Linked DNA regions of Homo sapiens. The protein of the gene in region 4 purifies or fractionates together with the protein of the main gene of each other region. This does not show direct contact. Each region holds a gene or a part of one and is shown on either strand. Other genes may lie near its edges.

Region 1 (5,692 bases), on a different chromosome or scaffold from region 4:
GGACCCAGCACTCACCTTGGCTGTCTCCTTCTTCTGAATCCCCTCATAGGTGGCTCCTTCCTCAGGCTGAGGGAGTCTGGGGGCTTTGCCCTCAGCGATCAGCCTCACGGCCTGCACCTGGGGAGATCCAGTGGGTTGCTATCCCCAGCAATAGGACCCTGCCTCCTTCCCAGCCCCAGGGCCCACATTGAGCCTGGACCCTTCCCCAGACTGACCAGACTTGCCTGGTACACAGCAGTCACCCAAGAAACACCTGCCATATGAACAAGGGAGTCAGCGTGAACCTAACTTCTATTGCACAACGGACACAGACCCGTCCTCTCTACCTGGCAAAGGTTTAGATTACATAGATCTTACATCTTCTGATATCTTAGATGATTATATAAACTGTAAAGCCCTGCAGGTATAACACAGACACAAATGTCCATGTTGCTGTCTAAGCCTTCTCTGCCTTTAAAGAGAGTGGGTCCTGAGCCCCGTGGTGGGCTTGAAGGTGGAAGTTTGGAGGTCTGAGATGAAGCAGGAAGTTGTTTCTCTGTGACAGGAAAGAGGAAGGTGGTGGGAAAGGAATCAGAGAGGGAGAAGGAGAGCCAAGGAGTCTGGGCCCACGTGAGCAAGAGCCTGAGGGAAGAGACCGGGAGGTGCCAAGAATGGGAAGTGACCGGGTGTCAGAGCATCTGAGGCAGGGCTGCCCAATGGAGCCCTCTGTGGTGATGGATGAGTTCCAAGTCTGCACGGTCCAACACGGTGGCCAGGGGACTTAGAATGTGGCTGAGACTGAGGAACTGAATTTTTCAGTATAATTCATTTTAATTGATTTAATAGCTGCATGTTACCAGTGGCTGCCTTGTTGGACAGTGCAGCTTCAAGGAGTATTTGAGTTGCTTGCCGTGGGAAGCACAGGTAAGCTCCCTCTCTGTACCACTAAATCTCCAGCAACTCTACTTTGTTCACTATTTTTGTGAGCTGGTCAATCTGTGGGGAAGACAAGTTTAACACAACCGAAAAATAAAAGGCAGTGGCCAGGAGCTGAGGAGGACGAGGGGACAGTGGACACTGCAGCTGCTCTTCCTGCTGCGCCCAAACAGCAAGGGCTCCCCAGGGCCTCCTTCCCTCCTGCTGCATGCCTGGACAGCACCTCTGCCTGTGGCCGTCCCTGCCAGCCTGTCCTCGGGCAGGGGCAAGCAGCCCTCACATATGATCCCCGGGCCCCTCCTGCAGCTGTGGGCTCCGGCCCATAGCCTGCCACCCTGCCTCTCAGCAGTACCAGCTGCCCAGGTGACTGAGCCGCCCTGCCGCTCAGGCCATGTGACCACAGGTCACGGCCTTCCCAGCAGGAAGCATGTGACGGAGACAGCCTATCAGAGCACTCCATCACCCCAGCTGGTGATTGGCTCATGAGGATCACATGACCCCCAAGCTGGCCAATCAGAATCTCCCCTGATTTGTGATTGATGAATTCTAGGAGAAAAAGTGTTTCTCTTTCCCTGGAATCAAGAATTAGAATCCTTGAGCTATAGTGGCTATCTTTCCTCTAATTCAGGGCAGCCAAACTGAGAATGAAACAAATCACACAGAGAAAAGGAGAATCAACGAGTGAAGGAGAGAGAAATAGAATCCTAACGATGTCATAATTGAAGCTCCTGGATTCAGCAGGGTGTGACCCAGTCCCTGCCTTTAGCCTTCCTTGTCTATTGAACGGGCCCCAAAATGTCCCCTTTTTGCCAAACGCTTTTTGAGCTGGGTTCTGTCCGTTGTGAGCAAGATTCCCTCCTAATACAATACACTGTTTGTCCTAATCCTGCCTCTGAAACCTTGAAGTGAGAGCTCCTCTCCCTCCAGAATCCTGAATTTGGGGAACAGATTCCTGGCCTCCAGGAGCGGTGGGCTGGGTCTAGGGAGGATGCTTGAGGGTGCGTCGGGGCGGGCAGGGCGCGGCCGGCTCCAGGTCCTCACCATCCCTTTGATGCCTTCAGGGAAGAGGAAGCGGTTGTACAGCGTGCTCACGGTGTCGTCCGGGAGCACCTCACACTCCTTCTGCAGCAGCAGGTCTCCGGTGTCCAGACCATCATCCGCCCAGAAGATGGAAAACCCCCCTTTCTTATCTCCGTGAATGAGGGTCCTAGGAAGCAGAAGAGTGAAACCTGGAGTCCACGATGAAGGGCCACGGAGGATGTCCTGGGTACAGGCCCGTGGACCTGCCACCCTCCAGGAGGCCCTCTCTTCCCAGGGGTAGGACTGACACCGGCTCCGGCGGGAAACGGAAGAAGGAAAACAGCATGTATTGATAACAACCATGGGCCAGGAATTGTGCTAAAAGCTCTATATGCCTTATGTAACTGAGTCCTCACAGCAGGGATAACAGGTATACTCGGTTTACAGATAGGGAAACTAAGGCCCAGAAAAGTGAAGCGACACCCACAAAGATCAGAGAGCCTGAATCTCAACAGACCAGTCCGACTACAAATCCACTCTCTTTTCTCAACTCAAATGTCTTCCCTCTTTGACCACCCATCTGCCTTGTCACCCCATTTGTTGTCTTGGGAATTCTGTCCCCTCAGAGTACCTTGTGGAGGCCATCCTTTGCTCCATCTTTATCTCTTTCTACGAAGTGTGCTGCCCAGAGCAGCGGCAGTGGAAGTTAGAGTAGGACCCCCAGCCCACCGCCTGGGGTGGCACCCTGGCCCCTGCGCCTCCTGGTGCCCTCTCTGTCCCTGCGCCTTCTGGTGCCCTCTCTGTCTCAGCTGGGGGATGGGAACACTGACAGTGCCAGCTTCTCCAATAACTGTGGGAATGCAGAGTGCTTAGCAACACCTGCTCCCAGTGCTCTAGAGCCTTCACTCATTGATAACGTTGCACAGCCTGTTCTGTGGCTGACATCTGGCAGCCACAGGACAGGCACCTGCACGATGCCCACTCTGCAGCCCTAGAAATGCTTTGGGCTAATGGAAAGTGACAAGTCAGGCTGATGGAGGGACATGTATGGGGATGGCCCCCTGTGTTTTTGCCCCATCTCACCAGTTGATGGCCGAGGCCCCTCGGTGCCTAGGGAGCAGTGACGGGTGATAGATGATGGAGCCATGCCGGGGGGCACTGATTATCTCCATGGGGATGAATTGGCTGCAGAAGGGCAGGACGTTGAGCTCGGCCCCCAAAGCCTGGTATTTTGCCACCACATCAGGCAAAGCCTGTCCTTTTGCACGCCACCGGGAGTACTTGAATACCGGCACTCCATCCTTCTCAGCTTCCAGACCTGTGGGACGGTGGATAAGAAACTGGCCCCTCTCCATAACCCACCCACACGCAGCCACCTCTGCCTTCCCAGCAGAGCAGCTCATAGGACTTCTCTCCATTCCTGCCCCCTCACCCACACCCCAGCCAGGCTCCACTGGGCAACACAGACGGATGCACCAGCCAAGCATGAGGCTCTGGGGACTGCCCTGCCTGCATCCTGACTTTTGCTGAACCCCAGGACCTCTGAGTGCCTCCCTCTTCCAGAACCCAGATGGCTGACCTCTGCCCTCATTCCTCTCCTGAGGCCTTGCCATCCCCGTCACTGAGTTACTGTCTTCCGGCCCCCTCTACTGCTCACTCTGTGATGGGGACTGCCCCCCTGCAGATGGCATTTCTGCTTTGTCAGCTGTTCCCTGATGGAGGAAGAAGGGGAAGAAGGGCAACAGGGCATCCCCACTCCTTTCTGTCCAGTGGGTTCCTGTCCTGTGAGCCTCCCCCAGCCCAGCTTCTTCATCCCAGTCACAGTCGTTCCTTCTCAGAGCAATGGCTAAATCAGTTTTTCCATCATCTGCAGAACTAGCCTCAATATGCACACATGCGTGCACACACACACACACACACACACACCCCAGAGGACCAGATACAGCCTGCAGGGCCCCTCCTCCTGCCCCGTCACCAGCACACCCTCCTCACAGGTCTGGATTACAGGCCCAAGCTCCCAAGTTTTTATAGTTAAAGCGTCCTCCTTTATCTTAGCCTTACAGTGGCAGCTGCTTCCTGCAGTCGCTGTCCCCAATAACTTTGGGCTCTCTGCCTTCCACTCTTCAATACCCAAGGAACACTTCTTTGTATTCAGTTCTCTGTTAGAGCCTCTGGTGTGATGTTTGGGCCCTGACTGGACTGGCTCTCCTCTCCGGTCTCCTCCTCTGTCACTCTGTCCTGGTGTCTGGTAGTTTTGAGAGAGGGTGGGATGTGATGTCAGCAGATTGGACTGCACTTGCAAAAGCTGTCCCACAGTGACCAATGAAATACTGCTTCAGGACATCTGAGATCAAGGCCAAGTAGGAGTCCCAGCCAGGCCTGGTCTGGGTCCAGGGTCAGCAGCTGGGGTCAGTGGTCACTTAGTGGCTGGGTGTAGGACCCAGGCTGTGGTGGGGTCAGGGTATGTCATGGGTCACTTGTGGTCAGGTCCAAGACTGAAGCCTGGCTGGCATTGGGTGTTGAGTGTTGGAGTTGATTCTAGGGCCAGGCTGCAGCTTCCCCACTGAGGGAGACTGGCTTTCCTTAACAAACTACACCTCTGTGCCTGGCCAGGCCTACAAGCCCCCTTTCCTAATCCTGGCCCTCTATCCTTAAGCCCTGCCCCACAGTCTGTCTCCATCAGGCCTGAGAAGGACCAGTCAGTGTTCCTAGAGGGTCTGTTCATCCAAGCTGAGGCCCCTGCATCCTGTCTGCTGAGGTTCCCAGCTCAAAGGCAGTGACCCAGACCCATGATTCTCAAAACGTGCTTTTCCTAGTACAAGAGATGCCAGTATCTCCCAGGAACTTGTCCCAGGTTAACAATTTCACCTAATTCTGACTTTTCCACCTCATTCTGAATCCGAAACTCTCAGGGTGCGCTTAGTACTCTCTGTGTTTTTTTCTTTTCTTTTACAAAATGCCAGGGGAGAGTGCAAATGCAGTTCCCCATTACCACAAATTATGAAGTCGAGTTTCCCACCTTTGGGGAAATTGCAGGGATCAGCACATCCAGAGTACAATGGAGAAGACTCGCCCTGGGAAAACCACCTTTGTGATCATGGTCTCTCCCCTGATGGGTAAGTAGAGCACTATGTGTTTTGACGGCAGCCCCAGCAATGGTGATGCCGCGCATGCCCACCTTTCAGAATATGGACCCCCAGTTCAGAACATGGAGACCTTCCCAATCATGGGTGCTGGGTCAGAGAAGCTCTGTGTGGGACCTGGGACCAGGCTGGGCTTCTCTATAGCCCTTCTCCAGGACCCTAATGCCACCCCATGATCAGGTGGGGAGGGGATCTCCAATTTATTCCAGAAAAGCCCAGCAGCCTGTTGGCACTGGAGCAGGATTCAAGGTAGACCACTTATGGCTGCCTCCCAGCTAGAGCACAGGCCCTGCAGACTTCTGCTCCCAGACTCCCACCTACTGCTTCCCTTCTACCTGGATGGGCGGGCCGCCCTCCATCAGCTTCCCTGCTCCATTGGCTCACTCACCCAGGGGGTCGGCCTTTCCATCCTTGTCTGGAACAGTGAACACACCCACCACTTCGTGGCCCTCCTTCCTCAGGTGGCAGTAAACTTCCTGGCCAAACAGGCTCTGTCCAATCACTGCAATCTTCATGGTAGCAGGAGGGTTGGAAGGACCTGGAGAAGGAATAAGGCAGCAATTAGACAGAGATCGCTGGTCTCAGAGAAGCCAGCCCTGGTTCAAGACAGGGCA
Region 2 (5,692 bases), on a different chromosome or scaffold from region 4:
ATGTTAGTTATTAGCATTAATTAAAAAATTCTTTGCACATGATTGGAACATGCTCAAAGAAAGACACATGAATGACAAGGCTATATGCTGTGGTCTTTAAAGAATGCACAGTCTAGTGGAGGTGAGACAAAATAGAGCATTACAATATTAAATGGTGAATGCAACAGTGGATTCACACATAAGGAGTTTTGTTTGTTGGGTTTTTTTTTTTTTTTTTTGAGACAGGTCTCACTCTGTCGCCCAGGCTGGAGTGTAGTGGCATGATCATAGCTCACTGCAGCTTTGTTCCTCTGGGCTTAGGCAATAAATGAAATGAAACAATAGATCTAGAAAGTCTTCATGGTATAAATGCACTTATCCATCTCCAACAGTTTGGATGCTTTAGAAAAATGCAAACTAATATTTCCTTCCTTCTCTCCTTCAATATTTATTCATTTATTTATTTTTAAGACAGAGTCTCACTCTGTTGCCCAGGCTGGAGTCAGTGGCTCAGCCTCCCAAGTAGCTGGGACTACAGGTATGTGCCACCAAGACTGGTTAATTTTTTTTATTTTTGGTAGAGATGAGGTCTCACTATGTTGCCCAGGTTGGAAACCCACACCAATTTCTTTGTAATCATCTTAGAAGCTATGATTTTTCTTTTTTTTAAATCTTTTTAGAAGAAGCTATGATTTTTCTAAACAATCTTCTACAAACTGGAATTAACTTTTAAGACTCTTCTCTCCCAAATACATATATTATTATTCATAATTCATAGTCCTTACAGAAATTGTATGTTCACAAGGAGATTGTACAGTATTGATTGTTGAGATTAAACAGAGAGGACCTAGTGAGCGGCAAGGGGGAGGGATAAGAGCAAAGATTATGAAGTCAAATAAACCTGAGTTTGAATCTCAGCTTCTCTGGTACTAAGTGTGTAACCTTGTCCAGATTACTTCTCTGAGTCTGATTCTGTGTTTGTAAAATAATGATGATAATGCCTACCTCACGTGACAGTTAAAAATCTAACTCCTTAATTTAGAATACAAAGCCTTCAAAGCTATCTTACCTTCCTAATCTTTTCATCTCCCTCCAGCAGCACTAACCCACTGGTGGAGTAGGCTGCTGTTGCATTGGTGATTTCTCTTTCTCTCCTCCTGCACCTTCTCCACATGCACGCTCGTGCACACGTACTCATGCACACATAGTGTCTTCTGTAATCTCATTAGGCAGTAAAATTTCAGAATATAAAAAGTTAACTGATTCCTTTTTCAATGCTCATATGAAATAATCCTAGCATATTTTGGACCACTCTCAAGCAGAGGGAGCTTAACTTTATTAAATTCAAAGCAAACAAGTAACACTTTAACAGGAGACATAAATTAAGATGTTTATTCCCAGTAAATTTTTAAAAAAGGTCTCAATAGCTTTTTACTTACATTAAACATCTTTTGCCCGAAGTCATATAATTAGTAGCAAAGCTGGTGTGTTAAGTCCTATTTCAAAAATATCCAGTTCATAAGCTTCAAACTCTTTTGCTTAGGAAACTTCATGATTTGGATCCTGCTCCCTTATCTGACCTAATCCTCAAAAAACATTATTGCAGCCACACTAAGCTACTTGAAGAACCCCGGCTAAATCATTCTGCATCATAATAGCATTTGCATTAAAAAATATAGTTCTCTTAGTCTAAAGTGGACACTGCCTGCTTATACGATTACAGAAATTCTAAAAAATACCAGCTCAAACATCACTTACGCAAGAGACTTCTCTTACTCTTCTCACACCTACTGCCTCTGTTCTGCTTGTTTCAGATGTCTTCCCCAACGCTCCTATGATTTCTATTTTAATACCTACTACACTTCACATAATTGCTAATTAGTTTGCCAGTCTACTATGAACAATCTTTGGAAGCAGAGATCACTTGTTATTTGACTTTATTTTCCCAGTGACTTGATTTGAAATGTATTTTGAAGTTAAAAGTCAATGAGTCTGGCTTCTAATTGGACATAAGAAATAAAGAAAAAAGAGGAATTAAGAATAATTCTTGATTTTTGACTTGAACAAGTGAATAAATGGTTGTACCACTACATGCAACAGGAAAGCCTGAGATATTTATTGGAAATAAATTTAATGGAGAGGTCAAAGAGCAATCTTAATTTCAGGGAGAAAAGTGCTAGGCTAGATATATAAATTAGGGTGTTATAAGCACACAGATGGCATCTAAAGCCCTGGGAATGGGTATTACCCAGGGAGACTGAACAAAGCCTGGCACTGTAATATTTTAGTGTGAGAAAGAGCACAGGAGAAAGAAGGAAAACTAGAAGAGTACAGTATTTAGTGCTGGGCATGGTGGCTCATGCTTGTAATCCCAGCACTTTGGGAGGCCGAGGCAGGCAGACAGATCACTTGAGGCCAGGAGTTCGGGACCAGCCTGGCCAACATGGCTAAACCCTGTCTCTACCCGCTGCCCCCCCGCCCCCCACAAAAAAAGAGTGTGGTATTTAGGAAGTTAAAAAACAAGTGTTTTAAGAAGTGGGGAGGACTATGCCAGGCGCAGTGGCTCACACCTGTAATCCCAGCACTTTGGGAGGCCGAGGCAAGTGGATCACCTGAGGTCGGGAGTTCGAGACCAGCCTGACCAACATGGAGAAACCCTGTCTCTACTAAAAATACAAAATTAGCCAGGCATGGTGGCACATGCCTGTAATCCCAGCTACTCGGGAGGCTGAAGCAGGAGAATGGCTTGAACCTGGGAAGTAGAGGTTGCAGTGAGCCGAGATCACACCACTGTACTCTAGCCTGGGCAACGAGAGTGAAACTCCATCTCAAAAAAAAAAAAAAAAAAAAGTGAGGAGGGCTCACAGTGTGGCAAGTGCTTCAAAATACAAGGAAGCCAAAAGGACAACCACTGGATATGGTAACATCAATCACTGGAGACCCTGGCGATTTTAGCAGAGTAAAGAAGACAGAAGACAGATTGGAGTATGCCAAGGAGGGAATAGGATGTAAGAAAGCAAAGACACTGAGACAATACTCTGGATAAGTTTTGTTGTGAAGAGGCAGAGAAAATGGCACAGCGGATGGCTGGGAGGCAAAGGATCAACAAAGAAGGGTATAACTGCAGAAACAAGTGCTCGTATTATAACTTTACACTCCACTGAAATTAGTTTTTTCAAACTATATGAATTTCTTAAGAGCAGAATTTCCTATTTTCTACCTTTTCTCTGTATCATAGTGTCAGAGGCGTTTGAACCAGAGCAACTCCATCTTCAGTAGGGGTTTGGTAAAATAAGGCTAAGACCTACTGGGCTACATTCCCAGTAAGTTAAGGCAGTCTTAATCACAGAATGAAATAGGAAGTCAGCACAAAATGCAGGACACAAAAACCCTGCTAATAAAACAGGTAGGTTATAGTAAAGAAGCTGACCAGCTGGGTGCGGTGGCTCATGCCTGTAATCCCAGCGCTTTGGGAGGCTGAGGCGGGCAGATCACCTGAGGTTGGGAGTTCGAGATCAGCCTGACCAACATGGAGAAACCCCCTCTCTACTAAAAATACAAAATTAGCCGGGCGTGGTGGTGCATGCCTGTAATCCCAGCTACTCAGCGGGCTGAGGCAGGAGAATGGCTTGAACCCGGGAGGTAGATGTTGCAGTGAGCCAAGACCCCACCATTGCACTCCAGCCTGGGCAATAAGAGCGAAACTCCACCTCAAATAATAATAATAGTAACAATAATAATGAAAATAAAATAAGTCCCTGTCAAATTTAGACACTGCGAACATCTTCTCCTAGACTGTCACCTTCCTGTGAGCTTTACCTGTGATGTTCTTAAAAAAAGGAGCTGGCCAAACCCCACTAAAACTAAGATGGCAATGACAGTAACCTCTGATTGTCCTCACTGCTACACTCCCACCAGCACCCCAAGAGTTTACAGATGCCATGGCAACGTCAGGAAGTTACCCTATATGGTCTGAAATGGGGAAGCATGAATAATCCACTTCCTGTTTAGGATATAATCAAGAAATAACCATAAAAATGGGCAACCAGCAGCCCTTGGGGCTGCTCTGCCTATGGAGTAGCCATTCTTTATTCCTTTACTTTCTTAATAAACTTGCTTTTACTTTACTCTGTGGATTCCACTGAAATTCTTTCTTGCACGAGATCCAAGAACCATCTCTTGGGGTCTGGATTGGGACCCCTTTCCGGTAACAGCAGGTTCTCAGTATCTGTTTGTGGAATGCCTAGAACCTAAACTCTTTAAGTCCTAGTCCGAGAAATGCAGTAGAGTGGAATGAGAACTTGAAATTAGACTCAAGTTTAAAAATCAGATTTTTCACTAACAAGCTATGTAGCCTTAGACAAATTACTTTCTCTCTCAGAACGTCTGTTTTCTTATGGGCATAAAATATTTATTTTGCTAGAGTGCTGTGTCAGTTAAATGAGCACTTGCTACAGTGTGACTCAGAGGGTACTCAAATAATTTTCGACATTATTGGTTATTATTTCCAGTGGTAGGCAAATTATAATCATGGGTAAGCCACACATAAGTACATGTAAGCACATACACTGGAGAGAATTTAAATTGAGTTTTAAGCATTTCACAATACCTCTAAAAAATGAGTATATATAAAAATGCAAAGCAAAAAAATATTCAGACCTGACAAATGGTCTTGAAAGACTAGAAGCATACACTACAGTTTTAGATTTCATTAGCGTATCATTTAACTGAGGGGTTATAAATGTGATGGAAAATAAAATAAACACAACATAGAGGAGGAAAAACAAAGATTACAGGGAATTTTCTCAGACAATAAAATGAGCCAGGTATAGAATATAAGACCTTTAAATTCGGGTCTAGACTACTGGTAGTTTATCCCCAAAGAAAATCACCTTTGGTCTGTTTCTAATTTGGCTCTCGAATTCTACTTTCCCATACATGACTGAATTTCCAAATAGTAGCCACTGATCCATTACAAATGTAAATCACATCATTAAACTTGCATATTCCCCACTCCCCACAAAGGCTTCCCACTGTACTTGAAATAAGTGCTAGCTTTATGTCCAACAGCCCCAACTGGCAACAACCAAAATGTCCATCAACATGGCCAGTGGCTACCATATTAGATCACTATGTGGCTGACTGTCATATAGGTCTCAGCAATAATGTCATCTCCTCAGAAGCCTTCTAAAACCAATCTAAAGTAGCGCTCTGCCCCCAGCACATTGCTATTTTTTTTGGAGCACATATCGCATTATCTTAAATTATTTTATTTGTTCTCCTATTTGTATTCTATTATAATGCAAGCACCAGGAAAACTGGTGTCTTTTGTTCAATACTGCTATCACCAGTGGCTAAAACGGTGCCTGGCACAAAGTAGACAATCAATAATTATACAGTGAATACATAAACACACAACTTTCCAAATCTTTAATTACATGTTTTACAGCAGTAAACCTTGGGTGGACAAAGATACTATAATCTCAAATGACTTACCACTGGCATGCAGAAAGTTAACATATCAGGCTACTTCCTCCAAGAGGCTTTCATTGACACCCCCAGCCTGAGCTGTCTCTCATATAATTGTTTAGCATCCAGTACTTCCTCTCATCATAACTATTATATTGTAACTAAGTTACTTGTTTGTATCTCCCTCTGAACTGTTTCTTGACTGAAATAAATATGTCAACTGTTTGAATACTTTCTTCACCCG
Region 3 (3,500 bases), on a different chromosome or scaffold from region 4:
GGTGAGAAGGAGCTGGGGGTTGTTGCAGGAGAATCGCTCAAGTTCTCCTAGTAATCACTCATCCACTGTGAATCAGCCACATGTTTCAGTATGGTACCATGGAAGTTCTCCGTGTTCACCATGCTGATAAACTCGTGAATTACCTCATGAACATTTCTTTCCCAACAAAGGTTCTCTTAATGTACTTGTGGCTAGTCAGCACTCATACACCTCACTCCTCCATGGGGCACACTTGATGGCAGTACAGAGTTTAATTCATGCTCCCTTGACAAGTTAAAGACTGCTGCAGTCTCAATCGTTGTAATTAATTAGTGTGTACAGTCAATTCTCTGTTATTAAAGGGCAGATTATTTCCAGTTTTTTGGATTTCCCAGGCTCTTATTTCTTGTAATGTTTCTTTTAATAGTTTGCCTTGGGTAATTTCAGTACTGGGCAAACTGTACGGATTCAAATAATAGCTCAGCCACCTGCCAGCTGTGTGAGCACTGGCAAGTAAATCAAGCATCAACTTTCCTTATCTGTAAAATGGGGCCATAAAACTACCTATCTCACAGGGCTGGTCTAATGATGAAAAAAACACTCAAAACCTAAATTGGCAGAGTGCCTGATGTTCGCTAATAGTCATCGTTACTAAATTATTATCACTCCACTTTTATTTGTAACCATCCTGCATCCTAGTACAGAGCCTGGTGAGGCCAGTATGTAGAGAATTCAAGGAGCATATGCAGCCGTAAGACCTTGTGACCAAATGCAGGTCCTTTCTGTTTTTCTTTCTCTTTAAATACAAAGCAAATCAAGCATGGCTGTGGGGGGAGACAATGTTAATCAGTTTAACAATAACCCACAACCCTCCAACCAACCTTTTCTGCTTTTCTTTTTTTTGAGACAGAGTCTCACTGGGTTGCCCAGGCTGAACTGTAGTGGCACGATCTCAGCTCACTGCAAGCTCCACTTCACGGGTTCAAGCGATTCTCCTGCCTCAGCCTCCCAAGTAGCTGGGATTATAGGCACCCGCCACCACGCCCGGCTAATTTTTTTATTTTTATTTTTAGTAGAGATGGGGTTTTGCCATGTTGGCCAGGCTGGTCTTGAACCCCTGACCTCAAGTGATCTGCCCGCCTCAGCCTCCCAAAGTGCTGGGATTACAGGCGTGAGCTACCGCACCCGGCCCTTTTCTGCTTTTCAATTACTACTGCATAGTTTTTTCTAGAGAATCAGGAGACACTGCCATTATCACCCTTCCCCCTCACTAGTGTTGGTGCCAGTTCTTTTAATAGCTTGCCTCTCATTTTGTGTTGCTGTGGCTCTAGGTTGCTTGGCTGTTCCTAGTACCTAGGCAATAGTAAGAAGCACAGATACCTTAAACCAACTTCTGAACTGGGCCTGAAGAAAGCTTTCATTATTACTTATCCACAATTCAGACCCTGAAAACATGCAGCCACCTGTCTATCTACATCACTGTCATTAACTGCCGAGTGAAAGGAATACCCTGAATGTCAAGGACATACTAGATTATAAAAGAGAACACTTCTGGAAAAGTTTTCATTTTTCAAAAGATGGTCTGGCTGGGCATAGTGGCTCTTGCCTGTAGTCCCAGCTACTCAGGAGGCTGAGGTGGGAGGGTCACTTAAGCCTAGTGTTTGAGACAAGCCTGGGCTACATAGAGACCCTGTCTCAGGAAGAAAAAAAAAAAAAAAGAAAAAGAAAAAGAAAAAACAATGGTCTGTATCCTCCAAGACCCTCAATCATAACAAAGCCACTGCCCATTGCTCCCTACCACAAGGAGAGAAAGCATCATTCTTGTTAAATGGTGTGAAAAGCACTTATTTTTCAAGTTCTTTAAAATGTTAAGCATAGAAACTCAGAAACCATAGACTTGTGTCTTCTGGTATACCTTTTAAGAATTCTTTTTTTTTGTTTTTGTTTTTGCTTTGGAAAATGACATGTTTTTATCGCTATGTTTGCACAGTAAGAATGTCCCCGCAGGCCCACCACCCTCCCTCAGCCCCAGCCCTCCAGCCTCTGTCTTTTAAGAATTCTAAACACAATTTCAAAATACTGAATTTTTAAACAATCTAAATATAGGAGCAGGGATACTCAATTTTTTTTTTAAAAATGTAATAAATTATGTTCATTTTACAATTACAATGCTAGTTTTGAGATTGAAAATGAAGTACAGATTAAAGAACACAGGTATGAAAACTATGTATCTATTGCTTGAGACAAGTTTATAATCCAGATCACAAGGAAAGTTATTCTTAGCCAGAGAGAGAGGAAGGGGTTGCCTAGCTAGGGAACACTGACAATTTATGGAGACATTTCTGTTTGTTGAAACTCTGGGGGAAAGCAGGTGCTACTAGCATCTGAAGGGCAGAGGCATGGGAGGTTTTTTTAACTTTTATTTCAGGTTCACGGGTACATGTGCATGTCCTGGGGGTTTGGTGTACAGATAATTTCATCATCTGGGTAATAAGCATAGTACCTGACAGTTATTTTTTCTGATTCTCTCCCTCTTCCCATTCTCTACCCTCAGGTAGGCTCCAGTGTCTGTTGTTCCCCTCCTAGAGGGATACAATTTTTTTTTTTGAGACAGGGTCTCACTCTGTCACCCAGGCTAGAATGCAGTGGCGTGACCACGGCTCACTGCAGCCTCTACCTCCCGGGCTCAAGTGATCCTCCCCGAGTAGCTGGGACTATGGGTGTGTGCCACCGTGCCTGGCTAGTTTTTTGTAGAGATGGGGTTGTGCCATATTGCCCAGGTTGGTCTCCAACTCTTGAGCTCAAGTGATCCTCCTACCTTAGCATCCCAAAGTGCTGAGATTACAGGTGTGAGCCACGGCACCTGGCCTAGAGGGAATACTCAATTTGATTAGCCCCACATTAGTAACCATCTTTCAACTCCTCCATGCCTTTCATTATTCCATTTCTTAAAATGGTAAAGACTACACACATATTGTAAGAACTCTGATGTTTTTAAAGGAATCGAGTAGATGAAAATAGGAGTGTTCTAGGGGCAAAACTCATGCTGATAACCTGTGACCTAGAAAGTGATTTCTATCAGTACATTTTGGATACAGGCACAAAGCCTCAAACATTGAGCAATATTGACTGGTCATCCAAGAGAGGTTAGGTACCAAGTATTCAGGTAAGCCTTTCCAATCGAAACGCATTGTAATTTCCCTGGAGCTTAAGCCTACTTAAAGTTTTACAGTTTTTAAACTGCTTTTCCTCACATTCTTCTTACTTTAAAATCAGAAGGGAAGTTAATTAGCTTGCCCACAATCACAGAGCTAAAAATGGCAGAGACAATAGCACAGCTGTGATCTTTTTTTTTTGAGACACAGTCTTGCTTTGTTGCTCAGGCTGGAGTGCAGCGGCGTGATCAGCGGGCTCACTGCAACTCTTCACCTCTCAAGCGATCAGGCTCGAGCGACCCTCCCACCTCAGCCTCCCAAGTAGCTGGGACTCCAGGTGCACATCACCATGCCCGGCTAATTTTT
Region 4 (5,692 bases):
CCTTGCACTATAAACAAAATGAACTCAAAATGGGTCATAGGGCTGGGCATGGTGGGTCACACATGTAATGCCAGCACTCTGGGAGGCTGAGGCAGGAGGATTACTTGAGCTTAGGAGTTTGAGACAAGCCCGCACAACAAAGTGAGACCCTGTCTCCACACACACAAAAAATCAAAAAATTAGCTGGGCATAGTTGTGGGCCCAGCTACTTGCAAGGTAAGGCAGGAAGACAGCACGAGCCCAGGAGGTTGAGGCTGCAGTAAGCCATGTTTGTGCCTCTGCACTCCAGCCTGAGCAACAGAGTGAGGCCCTCTCTCAACAACAACAACAACAAAAAAAGTATCAAAGACCTAAAGAAAGAGCTCAGATGGGATGATTTCTGGGGTATGTTTTCTAGCAATAAAATTTATGGTTATATGAAAAGAAAAAATGCATTAATTTAACTATTAATTCATTCTATAAACACGTTGCTTATCTACAATGTGGCAGTCGTTATGCTATGTGCTGGCAAGATGTGTATTATAAAATTCTTGTCTTTAAGGACCTCCCAATATAATGGGGAGACAGGAAAAGTTTAAAATGATGTAGTAATAGCAGAGAGGTAAATATAGTGATTTGACTCCTATGGCTTCAACTACTATCTACATGTAACAACTCTCCCCAAATTCCAGACTCATATATCCAACTGCTACTGAAATCTCCACTTTACTAGTGAGTTATATTTATCCTTTCCTCCTCTCTTTTTTTTTTTTGAGATGGAGCCTCGCTCCCATCACACCAGGCTGGAGTGCAGTGGCACGATCTCAGATCACTGCAATCTCCACCTCCCGGGTTCAAGTGATTCTCCTTCCTCAGCGTCCCGAGTAGCTGGGATTACAGGCATGCGCCACCAGGCCCGGCTAAAATTTTTGGATTTTCAGTAGCAATGGGGTTCTGCCATGTTGGTCAGGCTGGTCTTGAACTTCTGACCTCAGGCAATCCACCCGCCTCAGCCTCCCAAAGTGCTAGGATTATAGGCGTGAGGCGCCACGCCCGGCCTTCTTCACCCTTAAGATCTGAATATCAGTAAGATTACATACATGACTGTGAAATAAGTCCATCTGAAACATAAAGATAAACCAGGTACGTTTTAGAATTTTGAGATTTTGGAATGTTAACTGGGTACCTTATCTCAGTTTACAGGGGAACAACACTCTAATCAAATGCAGTAACATTTTAGAGCTAAACATCTACTAATTGGGATAAAGATCATAATAGCTTTGTGTCAGTTTAGGTCAGGTTTTGCCCATTCTCAACAGCCTCCAATCAGTTAAAAAAAATCATTTGTTTTCTAACAGGCTTTTGGATTTTAGAATCCAAAGAGATGAGGAATTATCACTCAAGCTCTCTAGTCTTCCATTAAGATGTCTCAAATAAAATGTAATCAGGGCCAGCTGCGGTGGCTCATGCCTGTAATCCCAGCACTTTGAGAGGGCAAGGCAGGTGGATTGCTTGAGGCTGGGCTTCCAGACCAGCCTAGCCAACATGGCGAAACCCTGTCTCTACTTAAAATATAAAAAAATTAGCTGGGTGTGGTGGCACATGCCTGTAATTCCAGTTACTCAGGAGGCTAAGGCACGAGAATCACTTGAGCCTGGGAGGTGGAGGTTGCAGTGAGCAGAGACTGTGCCACTGCACTACAGACTGGGTGACAGAGTGAGACACTGTCTCAAAAAAAAGCAATCACCCTGTAAAGACTCTCATCTTCACTCATCTGAGTTACTGACAAGGCTTCCTACTTCCAATTTATTCTCTATTCTGTCAGAGTGATTCTTCTAAAATGCAAATCTGATTGCGCCTACATTTTTCAATAACATTCTATTGCTTAAAAGGATGTAGCTCAAACTTTTTGCAAGATATACAAAACTACATATTATATATATATATATATATATATATATACACACACACACACATATGAATATGAGACTATTGCAGGAGCTGCTAACCTGTATTGTAGAAATAGGCAAATGACATGTTTAACCAAAGGATTTAGTCTTCTCTCTTTAATTATACAATTTCATTTTGTATCTTGTTCAAATTATCACTATTAAAGATTTTGGGAATTATTTTTTAGGCAGAGCAGAGCAGGATGATGTGGAAGATAAAGAAATGTGATATCTGGATGGATGGATGCTAGTCTTTGAATATCACTGGCTGGCTTGTAAGTATAATAGAGTAAGTTCATCTTGCCATCTGGCTAATGTAAAATGGAAAGCAGAGGTACTTGCCAATAAGAACTGCAGAACTGAATGAATTCAATAAGGTTTAGATCGGCAACACTTGATCATCAAACATTTCCAATTTCTAAATTCAGGTCCAGTGTCAGTCAAGTTGTGAGTTCCAGAATTACCTGATGTGAACTTCAAAAAACAGATCTGGGGCCGGGCATGGTGGCTCACTCCTGTAATCCCAGCACTTTGGGAGGCCGAGGCAGGTGGATCACCTGAAGTCAGGAGTTCGAGACCAGCCTGACCAACGTGGTGAAACCCTGTCTCTACTAAAAAATACAAAAAAATTTAGCTGGGCATGGTGGTGGACGCCTGTAATCCCAGCTACTTGGCAGCTGAGGCAGGAGAATTGCCTGAATCTGGGAGGTGGAGGTTGCAGTGAGCCAAGATCATGCCATTGCACTCCGGCCTGGGCAACAAAGCAAGACTCCGTCTCAAACAAACAAACAAACAAACAAACAACAGATGTGTAGGCCTCAACCATAGAGATTTTCATTACGCAGATGTGGGGTGAGATCCAGGAATCCGCATTTCTAAAAAGCTCTCCAGGATTTCTGATATACAGTTAGACTGCAGAAGTTGATACTGAAGAGTCCCCAAACTTTTAGGCAGTAATTTGTTGCTAAGGTAACAAGAGGTATAGAATCATGAAATTTTAGCACCTCTAAGACTTTCTACAGAATGACAAGTTGAAACTCCCTATTTTTTTTTTTTTGAGACAGGGTATCCTTCTGTCACCCAGGCTGAAGATCTCACTGTGCCTCAACCTCACTGCAGCCTCGACCTCCCAGGCTGAATCAATCATCCCACATCAGCCTTCCAAGCAGCTGGGATTACAGGCGTGCGCCACCATACCCAGCTAATTTTTAGTCTTTTTGGTAGAGTTGGGGTTTTGCCATGTTGCCAAGGCTGGTCTCGAATTCCTGAGCTCGGACAATCTGCTCGCCTTGGCCTCCCAATGTTCTGGGATTACTGGCGTGAGCCAGTATGCCTGATCAGAACTCCCTATTTTTTTCAGTCAGGAAAATTAGGAGTCCTGATTAGTTCAGTCACACCAATCGTGGCTGGATCTTTTGCCTTCTAACATTCCCACTACACATGCTACTTTTCTGTTCCTTAGTTAACTTATATAGGTAATAGCTCTTTAAGCAGACATTTTAATTTACCTAAAAGCAGTAACTACTTTTTCTACTTTATTACACCCTATAAAAGTGGACAGAGTTGGAAATCAGTGGATGCTTGCTGAAAGAAGGAAATGTGCATTCTTCTCTACAGGTGTTTTCACAGCTGCCGGGGCATCTTTATAAAGCTTCCCCAGGTCTCAGTGATAAAGACCATGGCTTTTACATTACATCATTTCTCATAGAGGGAATGGTTGATACATGACATGTGACAGCAGGATTACTTTATCAGGTAAAGGAATTACTAAATGAACTATTAATACTTGGAGTTATTGAGTCAGGTTAAAGTTTCCAGGTAGTGGGAATCTATAAAAGAGAACGGAAAAGTTGCTTCAGGAACAAATGGAGGGAAGAAATAGTCAACCTTCTGTTTAGAATGTGAGCTAATATCACAGCTGTTACTCTGATGGTAATTCCTGTCTACTATTTATAAACTAAGTGTTAAGACAAAGTACGACATGACAAAATGTTCTAAACACAATGCAAAATAAAATAACCTAAAGGTCCAAAATTTAGTTCAATAGGTGAAATTAAAAATTTTATCTTTCTGAAGTAGGAAAGATGTACAAAAAACACAAAAATGAAATAAAAAGAAGTTATAAAGAATTTCTAAATGAGTAAAGAAAGTACTAAACTAAGGCAAGACACTACAAAAAGGAAAAGAATTTCAAAGACTAAAACATAAACAGTAAAAGTCTAGGAAGACTAGGGGGCTAACATATAAAATGTTAAAAGCAAAAGAGACACACACAACACCTAAATAGGTATCAGCTAAGATAGCGGCAAAAATTGAACAAAAACTAGAAAAACTGAGAAAAATTAGATTGAAAAGATAGTTTCTAAAATGAGAAGAATCTGCCCAAGTGTCCATCAATTACAGGAATGGATAAACAAAATGTGGTTTATACATACAAAGGAATATTATTCAACTATAAAAAGAAATGAAGTTATGATACATGCATACAACACAGATGAACTTTGAAAGCCACTGAATTGCATACTTTAAAATGGATCAAGTGGAAAACTTTGTTATACATATATTTTACCCGAAGAAAGGAGGAAGCCAAAACAGACTAAAAGAAAAATCAGTATGCGACAAAACCAGAAATTAAAATAAAAAAAATATTAAAATCATAAATTTGTGAAACTATTGCAAGAATACCACCCCCAAATATCATTAAGGAACCTAAGGAACATAAGAAGTAAAAGGTAGGAGAGGGATGTCAAAGCAGCAGCAGCACAAATAGATCATTTAATCCTACTTACTGTAGGATGACCATATAATTTACCATTCTAACCAGGACACTTTTGAGAGGAAAGGGGACACTATTAATAATTACACAGGGACAACAGGTGTAGGCTGGAGCTGTGCCAGGCAAAAGTGGTTATGTGGTTACTCTCTATATAAGGGCAATCAGGTCCTTAAGGTTGAGTTCACGCCCACAGCTTGGGGTCTGGCAGAAGTACAATACTCTGACAGTGTCTTCCTGAATGACTCAAGTGGTCAAAAACGCAAGATTATTTTTCATTTTTTTACAGAGAAATAAAATACAATTCATGGCCTTTACTGAAGTTTACTGATTTGTGATTCATAAAACAATTAGCGTATCATTAGATTTTATTAAGAGCTATAATTTAGTGTTCTAGGAAATTTAGAAGGCCGAATTATACTTTGAAATGCACTGGCAGGCATACTAAGGAAGTCCTGAGGTGAATCATTTTTTATAAACCTACATTTTTATATATTACATTAGAGCCCTATAAATATATGTATACACTTTTTTTTTTTTTTTTTTTTTCAGACAGAGTCTCCCTGTCACCCAGGCTGGAGTGCTGTGGTGCGATCTCAGCTCACCGCAACCTCTGCCTCCTGGGTTCAAGAGATTCTCTGCCTCAGCCTCCCAAGTAGCTGGGATTACAGGTGGGTGCCATGACGCCTAGCTAACTTTTGTATTTTTAGTAGAGACAGGGTTTTACCATGTTGGCCAGGCTGGTCTCGAACTCCTGACCTCAGGTGATCTGCCTGCCTCGATGTATATACTCTTTTATACTTACTTTTGACTAGAGACAATTGAGACTTGAAAATTAGAAAAATCAAGTTAGAATTACTGAGAAAATTAGTAGCTCTGATATTCTACCCATTCTTTATTTTTAAATTAAAATTAATCTTAATGACCTACAAATAGGTTAACTTAAACAGTCCATACCTTACATGAGAAGCTCCGACTTGGGATGTTTCTT

Evidence for each region.
Region 1: the proteins of PREPL (region 4) and ALDH1L1 purify together in Homo sapiens (co-immunoprecipitation; one large-scale study listed by IntAct). This does not show direct contact.
Region 2: the proteins of PREPL (region 4) and XPNPEP3 purify together in Homo sapiens (co-immunoprecipitation; one large-scale study listed by IntAct). This does not show direct contact.
Region 3: the proteins of PREPL (region 4) and GOT2 purify together in Homo sapiens (affinity purification with mass spectrometry, with the first as the bait; one large-scale study listed by BioGRID). This does not show direct contact.

What each region holds. Positions count from the first base shown.
Region 1 is NC_000003.12:126,155,387-126,161,078, forward strand, and holds part of ALDH1L1 (cytosolic 10-formyltetrahydrofolate dehydrogenase), read right to left. Parts: intron 5,617-5,692; coding exon of another isoform or gene 5,594-5,616; coding exon 5,467-5,593; intron 5,052-5,466; exon of another isoform or gene 4,899-5,051; intron 4,790-4,898; exon of another isoform or gene 4,697-4,789; intron 3,254-4,696; coding exon 3,019-3,253; intron 2,123-3,018; coding exon 1,957-2,122; intron 118-1,956; coding exon 16-117; intron 1-15. UniProt on the Homo sapiens protein: Cytosolic 10-formyltetrahydrofolate dehydrogenase that catalyzes the NADP(+)-dependent conversion of 10-formyltetrahydrofolate to tetrahydrofolate and carbon dioxide.
Region 2 is NC_000022.11:40,862,463-40,868,154, reverse strand, and holds part of XPNPEP3 (xaa-Pro aminopeptidase 3), read right to left. Parts: exon of another isoform or gene 5,383-5,692; intron 1-5,382. UniProt on the Homo sapiens protein: Catalyzes the removal of a penultimate prolyl residue from the N-termini of peptides, such as Leu-Pro-Ala. Also shows low activity towards peptides with Ala or Ser at the P1 position.
Region 3 is NC_000016.10:58,727,817-58,731,316, forward strand, and holds part of GOT2 (aspartate aminotransferase, mitochondrial isoform 1 precursor), read right to left. Parts: intron 1-3,500. UniProt on the Homo sapiens protein: Catalyzes the irreversible transamination of the L-tryptophan metabolite L-kynurenine to form kynurenic acid (KA). As a member of the malate-aspartate shuttle, it has a key role in the intracellular NAD(H) redox balance.
Region 4 is NC_000002.12:44,353,839-44,359,530, forward strand, and holds part of PREPL (prolyl endopeptidase-like), read right to left. Parts: coding exon of another isoform or gene 5,659-5,692; intron 1-5,658. UniProt on the Homo sapiens protein: Serine peptidase whose precise substrate specificity remains unclear. Does not cleave peptides after a arginine or lysine residue. Regulates trans-Golgi network morphology and sorting by regulating the membrane binding of the AP-1 complex.